Homo sapiens: one gene and its partners. The protein of the gene in region 1 purifies or fractionates together with the protein of each later gene. This does not show direct contact. Each region holds a gene or a part of one and is shown in the gene's direction. Other genes may lie near its edges.

Region 1 (5,216 bases):
GAGTGACTGGCACTCGCCAGGCTCTGTATTCAGTATTTGGGGCCGGAGAGAGACACGGTCTCTTCCTATCAAGAACTCTTCGTCTTGTTTTGTGCATCATAGGAACTGCATAAACTAACTTGTGTAAATTGAATGAAGTGCGGGTACTGAAGTTCTCACACTGCATAAGGAAAATGTCTTTCATCGTTGAAATTTTTTAAATGTGTGTGAATTTTTATTAAAGTAATTCATGCACACATTTTTTTAAAAATCAGTGTTAAAAGGCTTCAGAAGAAATACTCTCTACCACATCCCACATCCGACAGTCTTGCTTGCCAGCAGCAAACACTTTTCATTCTTTCAGCTACTTTTGTGTTGTTGTTTGTACCTACTTGTTTCTAAGTAATTTCCTTTTAGTACCCCTAACTTTGCAAATTCCCTTCTGTGCATACAATAGTCAATAAATAGTCAGAGTATACATTGTTATGACAAAATTACCATTATTCACTGTTGAGCCAAGTAAGGTCCTATAATAATGGCTTGGTTTCTTTTTTTCCTTCCTTATATGACTTTTTATTTTTCCTGGAGTTAACAGTTGCCTTCCTTTTTTTTTTTTTTTTTTTTTCATTTGGTAAGGTTTCTATGCATCTCTCATTCATTTTTTTCTGGATGCTCTAACCGAGCTGTCACATATATCAATAATTTTCCTACACATTCAGATGCAACAAAATTCATCATTTTCATTTCCTCTCTTTCCTAGCCATTCATCTTGTACCAATGTGGACTGGTTTCTGGTTAGTCCTGCTGCATAGCTGTCCTCTTGGGACTTGCCCCTGCCCTTTTGTGGACATGGCTTCAGCAGCTCTCTTGGGTCTCCAGTTTCCTGGATCCTATGTTGTTGTCCTTGAGTAATAGTTCACATAGGAGTAGAATTCTAGGTTGCAAAAAGTTTTCCTCAAAATTTTGAAGTTTTTCATCATTGTCTTCTAGAATCCAGCTTGCTGTTGAGAAATCTAAGCCTACTGTGATTTTTACTCCTGTTTTTTCTCTAAAAGCTTTCAAGAGCATCTTTTAAAAAATCTCAGATATTTTAAAGCTTCACAGTTATGAACTTGTTCTGGAAGTGGGGATGTCACTGCTTCCCCCAAATTATAACCATGTAGAGCAGCTGTGGGTACCTAGAGACATTCTGTGTTCTCTTCCCCTTTTTTTTGAAGGGTGATTATTGATGGTCCTACATGGGCCACTGTTCTAGGCCCTGGTAGTAGAACAATGAAGAGGACACACAATTCCTGCCCTTGGGAAGCTTACATTCTAGTGAGGGGAGACAGACAATACACACACACAAATGAATACTTCTAGGCGATGGGGAGAGTTACTAAGAAAATAAAGTACCCAGTGGAGGGCCTTGGCAGGGAAGCTGGGGAGCAGCTGCTTCAGATTGGCTGAGAGGGAAGATCTCCCCAGGAGGGGACATTTTACATGAGCCCTGAACAAGGACACCTGCAAACGTGCTCTAAGCAGAGGAAGTCAGTGCCACAGACAATTTAAACTGTGTTCAAGGATGAGTGAAGACCCCTGTGTTCCTGGAGCCAAAGGAGAATAGGGGAGAGTGGTGTGTAGGAGGGAGGCAGGAGCCAGCTTGTGCTGTAAGAGGGGGGGCATTCTGCCATGTTTGGAGAATGAACTGAGACTAGCAAGAGCAGCCATAGCAAGGTCACGTGGGAGGTGATTGCAGGGTCCAAGGAAGAGAGTCTAAGACAAGATGATCTCTTCCCTGCCTGGAATCTGCTGTCAGGAACAAGGTACCGGGAAGATGTGCACAGGAGGCCAGCCCTGCCAGGCCCAGGAGCAGTGGTGGATGCAACAGGGAAAGGTGGTGTCTGTTATTTGAGGGATAATGTAAGCAAGGTTCTCTTTCTTGCAGGGCCCAATGGCTGCAAAATCGCAACCCAACATTCCCAAAGCCAAGAGTCTAGATGGCGTCACCAATGACAGAACCGCATCTCAAGGGCAGTGGGGCCGTGCCTGGTAAGGATCTTGCCTGTTCTCCCAGCTAGAAAGTAAAGTGTGGTCTCAGAGCTTTCCAGCCTTTGGAATTGTATGGACCCAAAGGAATGAAGGACCTTTTTAAAAAAGATTTTTTTTTTTTTGTCAAGACTAATGAAAGGTAAACAGTTTTCCACTTTATAAAGTAAGGAATTATAAAAAGAAACTAGAAATCATGGTCAGTCAACAACTTAGAAAAAAAGATAAAGGCTTAAAGGGCAGCTGGGGCCTTCCCACCATCTGGGGGTATGACCTATTGTCACAGCTCCCATTTCGCCATAGAACCATGGGGACTTCGTGCAGGGTGAGTATCCTCTCCGACCTGGAACTGGGGAAACCACTGGCCTTGGTGGTTGTGAAAGACCTACCTCCGCTCATATTCTGAGCTCTGGGCCTTCCATGGGGGCCACAGATAGTGCCACCAGTTAATCAACTACAGTAGAGCAGGCATGTTGAGTGGCTTCCCTGGCCGCAAGGAGGGCCCGTGCTAGGAGCTAATGCCTTCTGTCATGGGGTACTGGTGGGTTTGAGCAACAGTTCTCCCACACAGAGCCTCTTAGGGTCCTGGTGGGGCCCAGGGCAGATGGGCCCCAGTGTGACTGCCTGCATCCGTCCTCGCAGGGAGGTGGACTGGTTTTCACTGGCGAGCGTCATCTTCCTACTGCTGTTCGCCCCCTTCATCGTCTACTACTTCATCATGGCTTGTGACCAGTACAGCTGCGCCCTGACTGGCCCTGTGGTGGACATCGTCACCGGACATGCTCGGCTCTCGGACATCTGGGCCAAGACTCCACCTATAACGAGGAAAGCCGCCCAGCTCTATACCTTGTGGGTCACCTTCCAGGTCAGCAGCCCCTGCCCTGGGGTTGGGACACAGCAGGTGGGGAGCGTGCCCTCCTGCTGGGGTAGTCCTTCCATTTGTCTGGGACATGGATCCTGGCTCAGGTTGACATCTGGGTTCCCGGGACCCAGCAGGGCATTCCCTGGACTCTGACATGTTCAGATTCATCCTCAGCTGTAAGGCAGGAGGCACCTGTCACATCAGCGTTTGATACACCTTCACGGCATGCCTGCATGCAGTTGCTGGGCACGCCCAGCTCTGCAGGGACAAGCTGAGGATAGGAGCAAAACCCCGTGGGAGGGCAGTGCTGTCCTGAGGAAGCCCCATTGTCAGCAGGAGTCACGCCTTGCACCAGGTCTGGAAAGGAGCATCTCAGTCCCCAAAGGGACTCTCTCAGTCATGAGATGCCACTCAGAGAAGCGAGGGCCATGTTTCCCCACAGGCAGTCGAGGCAGGTCCAGGACGTCCTCAGCTCCATGGTGTCCCCACTGGCCTCCCAGTCCAGAGGGAGTTCCAGGAAGGGGTTGTTGTAAACCTGGTGCACACATGGGTGGTGCTGATTGCCTGAACCCAGGAAAAGGTTTCCAGGGAAACGGTGCTAGAAAGAGACAGGCCTGGGTTTTCCTTCCTGGGCGGGAGGAAGGCTCAGATCATGATTAGCTGTTTCTCCCCAGGGTCCAAGCTTCTGGGCTCCAGAATACTTCTCAGTTCAGATCTCTTGGTCCCTTTGAGTGAAAAATGACAGGGGCAGTGTGAATCACAAATAGCCACAAAGCAGGAACCCCCACCTGTCCATCAGTAGATGAATGGACCCACAGAACAGAACACTGTGCCCACTGTGGGACACTATTTGGCAGCGGAAGGGAATGAAGCTCTGATGCCAGTAGGCGGATGACCCTTGAAGACACTGCTGAGCGAGAGAAGCCAGTCACAGAGGCTGCATACTGTGTGGTTCCCTTTATATGCAATACCCAGTACAGGCAAATCCACAGAGGCAGAAAGCTCAGTGGCAGCCAGGGGCGGCAGGGACAGGGAATTCAGAGTGACCGGAGATTGGAACAACATTTTCTTCTGTGGTGATGAAAAGTTCTGGAATTAGCAGTGATAGGTGTACAACCAACCATGTAAATGCGCTAAATGCCGCTGAATTGTGCACTTTAAAAGGGTGAATTTTAGCCGGGTGTGGTGGTGCACACCTGTAATCCCAGCTACTTGGGAGGCTGAGGTGGAAGGATCACTTGAGCTCAGGAGGACAACGCTGCGGTGAGCTATGATTGCACCACTACACTCCAGCCTGGGTGGTAGAACAAGACCTCATCTCAAAGATAGATTTATATATATATATAAAAAGTTGAATTTTATGGGATTCTCCATTTTAAAAAGGTGACTGGGAGGGACCTGTGCGCTCTCCTGAGGGGCGAATGGAGCCCTGGGGGAGAACGCCTTGGCACCTTCCCTGGTTGATGAGTTTATTGTCTCAGAACCCCCTTCAAAACCCACAGCCCAGCAGTTTGAGCTTCCAGGAGCCATAAGTGCTTCAGGAAGAAAAAGACTATGATTGTGATTCTCATGTTCCTGCTATGCGTCCCCCTTTGCAGGTGCCCTCCAGGCGGGGGGTGATCAGGCTGCTTGTGTGTTTCAGGTGCTTCTGTACACGTCTCTCCCTGACTTCTGCCATAAGTTTCTACCCGGCTACGTAGGAGGCATCCAGGAGGGGGCCGTGACTCCTGCAGGTAGCCTCCTCCCTTCCACCCTCCCCAGGCTCCCGTTCTCATCCCTTTCTCTCAGGGGCCAGTCCTCCCCAGCGCTGCTTTGTCCCTAAGACTTGTCACAGGATAGAAATCCATTTTGCTTGGATTTTTCACAGCACCAGGCCTCAAAACCATTGAGGGCAGCTGGGGCCATCCCACACCCAGGTTAGAAATCACTTTCCTGGGTAAGGAGGGAATGGATGGCCCAGCTCCTTCCCAGCCCCATAGCAGGGGATGCACTCGGCCCATGAAGCTTCCTGCAGAGACCACCATGCAGAGACCACCATTCCTCGGGGCTGTCCGTGGGAGACCTTGTCTGTTCATTCCTTGCCATCATTGAGAACCCACGAGGAGCCTGGCTTTGTGCCTCTCACGTGGGTGCAGACTGGAACCGCATCCCAACTCTGCCCCCAGAAGCTCCCTGTTTTGAGGGGTGGATGGGCTGAGGTGCTCCCCAACAATTACAGAGGGGGCCAGGCATACCACAGGGGCATCCTCACTTGCTTCTGCCCCTCAGCCCTGACCTCCCTATCAGACTGCACACCTGTCACTCAGCCTATGGCCAGTTAACGAGATGCAGAACCAAAGGATGGACT
Region 2 (3,042 bases), on another chromosome or scaffold:
CTGAGTGAAAGGGACAGTGACAGATAATAGTTCTCAGGCGGGCCCAAGCATTTGATGTTGAACAAGGATTCTTAACGTGGGTCCCAGATTGAACAGGGTATGTGTGCACATGTGTGCATTTTCTGAGGTGAGGATCTAGATATTTCATCCAAAAAAAGTTAAGCAGCACTGATGTATAGACATCAGTGTACAGTGGAAAGGTCAGTGGTTTGGGAGGCAGCATCAGGTGCACGCCCAATTATCCTATTGTTAGCTGTGTGACCTTGGCCAAGTTCATTGATTTTTTTTGAGACAGAGTCTTGCTCTGTCACCCAGGCTGGGGTGCAGTGTCATAATCTTGGCTCACTGCAACCTGCACCTCCCGGGTTCAAGCAGTTCTCCTGCCTCAGCCTCCCTAGTAGCTGGGATTACAGGCGTGTGCCACCACACCCAGCTAATTTTTGTATTTTTAGTAGAGATGGGGTTTCACCATGCTGGCCAGGTTGGTCTCGAACTCCTGAGCTCAAGTGATCCTCCCGCCCCAGCCTCCCAAAGTGCTGGGATTACAGGCATGAGCCACCACACCCGGCCAAGTTCATTGATTTTTATAGACAACTTTTTACTCTTCACAACAAACGTCTGTTGAGTGTACCTTATAAGGTGTGAAGAGTAAAATGATGAATAGGGTAAGATGCTGAGCCTCAAGGAGCTGGGAATCTAGTGGCAGATACAGATGCAGATGTACCTCTAATACAATAGTCTTATATGTTACACTGTGTGCATCTATAATACAAAAGCAATACAGAAGTTTTATAAAAGTAATAACTAATATTAATTGAATACTTATGCAACTTTTAAGTTCTTTATATATCATCTCAGCAAAGTTTTTCTATAACTCTTTGAAGTAGATGCTATAATTCCATTTTATAGATGAGGAAACTGAGGTACAGAGAGAATAAATAATATGTCCAAGGTTTTACAGCTCCTAAATGACCCAAGTTGGTATTAACACGCAGTCTGGGCCTTACCCAACAAGCTCCACCGCCTCGGTAAGCAATTGTGGCCTGTGGAAGAAGTGTCGCGGGCTATTCCGAAGTTAGAGGAAATAATGCACTTGAAGACTCATCCCTAATTTGAGGTCCTTTTTAACAAAAATTGTGAAAAATATGCATAACATAAAATTTGCCATTTTAGCCGTATTTAGGTATACAGTTCAATAATGTTAAGTACATTCACATTGTAATGTAACCATCACCATCAGTCATCTCCAGACCAGTTTCATTTTCTCAAACTGAGACTCTGCACCCGTTAAACAGTAACTTTCCCTTCCCCCTCCCATCCTCTGACACCTGCCATTCTGCTTCCTGTCTCTATGAATTTGACTACTCTAGGTACCTCATGTAAGTGGAATCATACAGTATTTGTCCTTTGAGTCTGGCTTATTTCACTTAGCGTAATATCTTCAAAGTTGGTCCCTTCTTTTAAAAAAATTCTGTAATTTGAAATTATATCGTGTGGCCAAAATACAAGAAATTCAGGCTTGTTTTTAACAGCCTGATAGTCACATTGGAGGTCATATGATTTTCTTATTCTTTAAAGTTATATTTGGGAAGTTATAATCTACAGCCCAGTAGAGAGGTGCCTGAATTACATAGTGGGCCCTTTTATTGTGTAGGATGGAAAGATAAAGAGAATTAAATATATTGGGGTCTGTATGCAGGAAAGAAAGGATAAGCTGGTAGAACAGATCAGTTGTATGGGAGGCTTTCTTTCCTAAAGAGGGAGGTTTAAGAGTTAATGATTTAGGCAGGTGTGGTGGTGCATGCCTGTAGTTGCAGCTATAGGCTGAGGCAGGAGGATCACCTTAGCCTCTGAGTTCAAGACCAGCCTGGGCCACATAGTGAGACCCCGTCTCTTAAAAAAAAAAAAAAGAGTTAATGATTTAAATATTTCTTTCGTATTTGTGTCCCAGCCTCCAAAAATAGATCAGATACAAAAATTAGTTGGGTATGGTGGCATGCACTTGTAATTCCAGCTATTCAGGACGCTGAGGCAGGAGAATCGCTTGAACCCAGGAGGCAGAGGTTGTGGTGAGCTGGGATCGTGCCACTGCACTCCAGCCTGGGCAACAGAGTGAGACTCCATCTAAAAAAAAAATAATAATAAAAACAAAAATAGATCAAAATATGTCTCAGGTCTATTCCTGAGACATATTTCCCAAGGATTTTTATGAAACTTCTTATTTAGATTCGCTTTTATTTAAATATCCATGACCAACTAATCTGGGTTAGGGTCTATTGTGTGAACAAAGGGAAAATTTTGGTAAAGCTCCCTGCCTCCCTTTGCATCAAGAGCACCTTATTCTTTGCAGAGTGCTGTTGTATACACTATGAGATTGGATCCCGATCCTCCTGGGCTGGGTAGATGGTGGTGGAGTGGTTCCTCACTTTGAAATGAGGAACTAAATGAAAGAGCAGCCGAGTAACTTGCCCAGGTGGCATCTCACTGAGGGCTTTAAAATCTCCTTGGTTTAGTTTAGTTTGCGGATACATCTTTTATTTTTGCTTTTTCCTTTTCTCAGAGCTTGACAAAAGATTTGGGAGGCAATGCAAAATGCTCAGACTTCACAGAGGAAATCTGTCGCCGAGTAAAAGATTTAGATTAACACTTCTACAACTGGCATTTACATCAGTCACTCTAAATGGACACCACATGAACCTCTGTTTAGAATACCTACGTATGTATGCATTGGTTTGCTTGTTTCTTGACAGTACATTTTTAGATCTGGCCTTTTCTTAACAAAATCTGTGCAAAAGATGCAGGTGGATGTCCCTAGGTCTGTTTTCAAAGAACTTTTTCCAAGTGCTTGTTTTATTTATTAAGTGTCTACCTGGTAAATGTTTTTTTTGTAAACTCTGAGTGGACTGTATCATTTGCTATTCTAAACCATTTTACACTTAAGTTAAAATAGTTTCTCTTCAGCTGTAAATAACAGGATACAGAATTAACAAGAGAAAATGTCTAACTTTTTAAGAAAAACCTTATTTTCTTCGGTTTTTGAAA
Region 3 (3,500 bases), on another chromosome or scaffold:
AGGAACACACAACCAGAGGGTGGGCCGAATTTGTGGACCCCTGCAGCACACATTAGACACCCACAACCGAAGGCAGTAGTGCCCTCTGTATTGATACAGGATACAGTGATGAGCCAGTGGTGCTAAGATGCCACCATTTATGAGGTTTTTTTGCTTTCTGTTTTTTCAAAGCTCCTCTGCTTCTCCGTATCAGATGTCCCCCAAAGGGTAGGCAAATCATTCTTACCAATGCTTGCCATTAGGGAGGGGGAGGAGAGTTGAGGGTGGGTGGGGAGCCAGGTCAGGTCATTGCTGGGAGGGAAACAGGGTCAGGAATGCGCAGGGAGGCTTAACTTTTGTACTATGGGGATTTCTGCTGTGGGCATGTGTAGGTCTTCCAAAGGTAACCAAGGAAACAATAAAAGCCAGGCTATTTATTGAGATCCTGTTGCATGCCAGACATTGGCAAAGGCGCAGGATCTAACAGAAGAAAACAGGCAGGTCCCTGACTTCATGGGAGTGGTCCGGCAGCTCCAGAGGAGTGAGGGAAAGGGTCACTCAGCCTTCAGTGCTTACACACATGGCTGCTTTGGGGAGTCACCGTGCCCCCTAGTCTGATGTGGACCCTTTCATGAGCTGCCCCAGCCTCTGTTTGTCCCCACTCTTCCCACACTCATCCAGTGGCCTGTGTCTTCCACACCTGCGGTTGTGGGTGTCTTAAGGACAGAGACCATGTCTCAGTTATCTTGGTTCCCCAGCACCCAGCATAGAACCTGGTTCCTGACCTCGGAGGCCCCTTGGAACTGTTTTTTTTTTTTTTTTGGAGACGGAGTCTCACTCTGTCGCCCACACTGGAGTGCAGTGGCACAATCTCGGCTCACTGCAAGCTCCGCCTCCTGGGTTCACGCCATTCTCCTGCCTCAGCCTCCTGAGTAGCTGGGACTACAGGCGCCCGCCACCATGCCCGGCTAATTTTTTGTATTTTTAGTAGAAACGGGGTTTCACCGTGTTAGCCAGGATAGTCTCGATCTCCTGACCTCATGATCCATCTGCCTCGGCCTCCCAAAGTGCTGGGATTACAGGCATGAGCCACCGTGCCTGGCCAGAACTGTTTAATGAATGGAGGAGCAGCCTTGGCTTCAAGGGCTCCCAGAGCTGTGAGAATCGGGCATCAGTGGACACTGGGGACCCTCAGGAACATGGTAGGACTCAAGCAGGGAGGAGGATTGTGACCCAGGGGCCAAAGTCTTCTCTGTTGGAGGTGGGCAGAGCTGGAGGGAAGAGGGGGCCATCGTCAGGAGGCAGCAGTGCTGAGTGAGGAAGCTCCCGCCTCGTGGCAGTCTGAGGCGTGGAAGAGAACAGCTTCTGCGCAGGAGGGTTTCCAGGGAGACCGAATTGGGGGAGCCAGGCGGGTGGTCAGGCTGTGAGCAAGGGATGCTGCAAACCAGTGGGCTCCTTGTCGAACCTGAGCCAGACTGCACCCACCCCATGAGCGCTGTCTCTGGCTGTGTGCCCCTAGGGAGACTGCTTAAATTCTCTAAGAATCACTATGCTCATTCAACAGCATTCGTTTCTCAAACATTTATGGAATGCCAGCTCTATTCCAGCCAGATCTCAACAGCTAGATCAGGAATGATAGCTAGCTCATTATTGCACTCCAGGCATGGGGTTGAGTGCCTTCCACTTGGTATTAATATCTCATTATCCTCACAAGGCCCATTTTACAGATAAGGAAACTGAGCTCAAAGAAGTTAAGTAACTAGCCCGGGGTCATCACTACTGGCGAATGCCAGAGCTGAGAAGCAAACCTAGATTGGACTGGTAAAGTCCTAGGTCCCATCACACCCCCTCCAAAGAGGGGAATTGGACTCAGGCGTGCTTCTGTCAAGCACAGAATGGGACCTGGCCCCTGGCCCCTTGCACTTGGAGACATTCAACCCTTGTTGGTTTTTTTCTCTCCAACCCTAATCTTTGTTTTCCAGGACATTATCCCCTTTGGCAACAACCCCATCTTCCGCTACCTCTTTGGCTGGATGGTGCCTCCCAAGATCTCCCTCCTGAAGCTGACCCAGGGTGAGACCCTGCGCAAGCTGTACGAGCAGCACCACGTGGTGCAGGACATGCTGGTGCCCATGAAGTGCCTGCAGCAGGCCCTGCACACCTTCCAAAACGACATCCACGTGAGTGGGGCAGGGCAGGGAGGGCGCACCAGGTGCATTCCCTTGGAATCCATGGTCTCCTCCCCTGAACCGTGTGACCGACCTTGGGCACACTGCCCTCTGGGTGTTTTCCCAACTTTAAGATGAGGTCCTTGTCCCTATGTCTGCTGAGGCCTCAACCCACTCAGTGATGGCCCCCCTGGGAGAGGAGTCATAGGGTCTGGCATCGAGCACTCCCATGACCTGCTCCGATTGTGTCCTCCAAGGTGGTGGAGTCAGGGTGTTCTCAGCCAGGGCTGGGGGGCGGGGCAGTGAAGCTGAGAGCACCTGAGGGGGTCTTGAGAATGCTGCAAAGCCTTCATTTGGGTGGGTATGAGCGGGCCAGCCATGAGCCTGTCACCTGTTGGAGAAAAAGCACCAATACCCACCTCCCTGGTCTACCCAGGTCTACCCCATCTGGCTGTGTCCGTTCATCCTGCCCAGCCAGCCAGGCCTAGTGCACCCCAAAGGAAATGAGGCAGAGCTCTACATCGACATTGGAGCATATGGGGAGCCGCGTGTGAAACACTTTGAAGCCAGGTCCTGCATGAGGCAGCTGGAGAAGTTTGTCCGCAGCGTGCATGGGTGAGTGGCCCAGAGTATAGTATGTTGCCTCTAGCTGACAGCCCCAGGGTACTGCTCCAGGGGAATGAGGCCAGCTCTATGGAGAACCAGGAGCCCCAAGCCTATCAACTGGTTCCTTAGGGCCCCTGCAGCTGTGGCAGCCTCTGGGTCAGGAGGTAAGCTGTGAAAGATGGGCAGGGGGTGGGCTTGCAGGACTACTTGCCCTCTTCTCCCTGCACCCCCTCCTCCAGTGAACATGTCACACCCCCCCAGCAGCCCCAGCCAGAAACCTGGGAGTCACCCCACTCCTCCCCACGGAACAGATGATGGGTGTGGGCTTAGCTGGGTCCAGGGGCAACTGCTCCAGATGGAAAGGCCAAAGCTAAGGAGAGAGGGATTCCTGTCTATGAAAACCACGGAGAGGCCCAGGACAGAGGATTGCTCAGAAAACAGCCTGGATAAACTATTGAGTGGAACATGGACAAAGCCAGGAAAAAACAATGCCATATGATTCCTTTCATATAAAATTCCCAAAAACACACATGAATCCATACTGATAGCGCATCAGTAGTTGCCTGGGGATGGCAGAGGGCAACGGATAACTAAGGGGCATGGGGAAAGTTTGGGGCTGATGGTTATAGCCACGATCTGGACTGCAGTGATTGGAGTCCTTGGTTGCATGCATGTGTCAAGCTTATCCAATTGTGTACTTTAAATTATGTCTAGTTTATTGAAAGTCAATAACAGATTAAAGGAAAA

What was found.
Region 2: the proteins of DHCR7 (region 1) and IDH3A purify together in Homo sapiens (affinity purification with mass spectrometry, with the first as the bait; one large-scale study listed by BioGRID). This does not show direct contact.
Region 3: the proteins of DHCR7 (region 1) and DHCR24 purify together in Homo sapiens (co-immunoprecipitation; one study listed by IntAct). This does not show direct contact.

What each region holds. Positions count from the first base shown.
Region 1 is NC_000011.10:71,441,649-71,446,864, reverse strand, and holds part of DHCR7 (7-dehydrocholesterol reductase), read left to right. Parts: intron 1-1,906; 5' UTR 1,907-1,912; coding exon 1,913-2,010; intron 2,011-2,578; exon of another isoform or gene 2,579-2,649; coding exon 2,650-2,872; coding exon of another isoform or gene 2,873-2,908; intron 2,909-4,511; coding exon 4,512-4,602; intron 4,603-5,216. UniProt on the Homo sapiens protein: Oxidoreductase that catalyzes the last step of the cholesterol synthesis pathway, which transforms cholesta-5,7-dien-3beta-ol (7-dehydrocholesterol,7-DHC) into cholesterol by reducing the C7-C8 double bond of its sterol core.
Region 2 is NC_000015.10:78,166,362-78,169,403, forward strand, and holds part of IDH3A (isocitrate dehydrogenase [NAD] subunit alpha, mitochondrial precursor), read left to right. Parts: intron 1-1,106; exon of another isoform or gene 1,107-2,014; coding exon of another isoform or gene 2,015-2,124; exon of another isoform or gene 2,125-2,560; coding exon 2,561-2,644; 3' UTR 2,645-3,042. Other genes in the region: long-chain-fatty-acid--CoA ligase ACSBG1, read right to left, coding at 2,015-2,124. UniProt on the Homo sapiens protein: Catalytic subunit of the enzyme which catalyzes the decarboxylation of isocitrate (ICT) into alpha-ketoglutarate.
Region 3 is NC_000001.11:54,852,696-54,856,195, reverse strand, and holds part of DHCR24 (delta(24)-sterol reductase precursor), read left to right. Parts: intron 1-1,961; coding exon 1,962-2,159; intron 2,160-2,583; coding exon 2,584-2,762; intron 2,763-3,500. UniProt on the Homo sapiens protein: Catalyzes the reduction of the delta-24 double bond of sterol intermediates during cholesterol biosynthesis.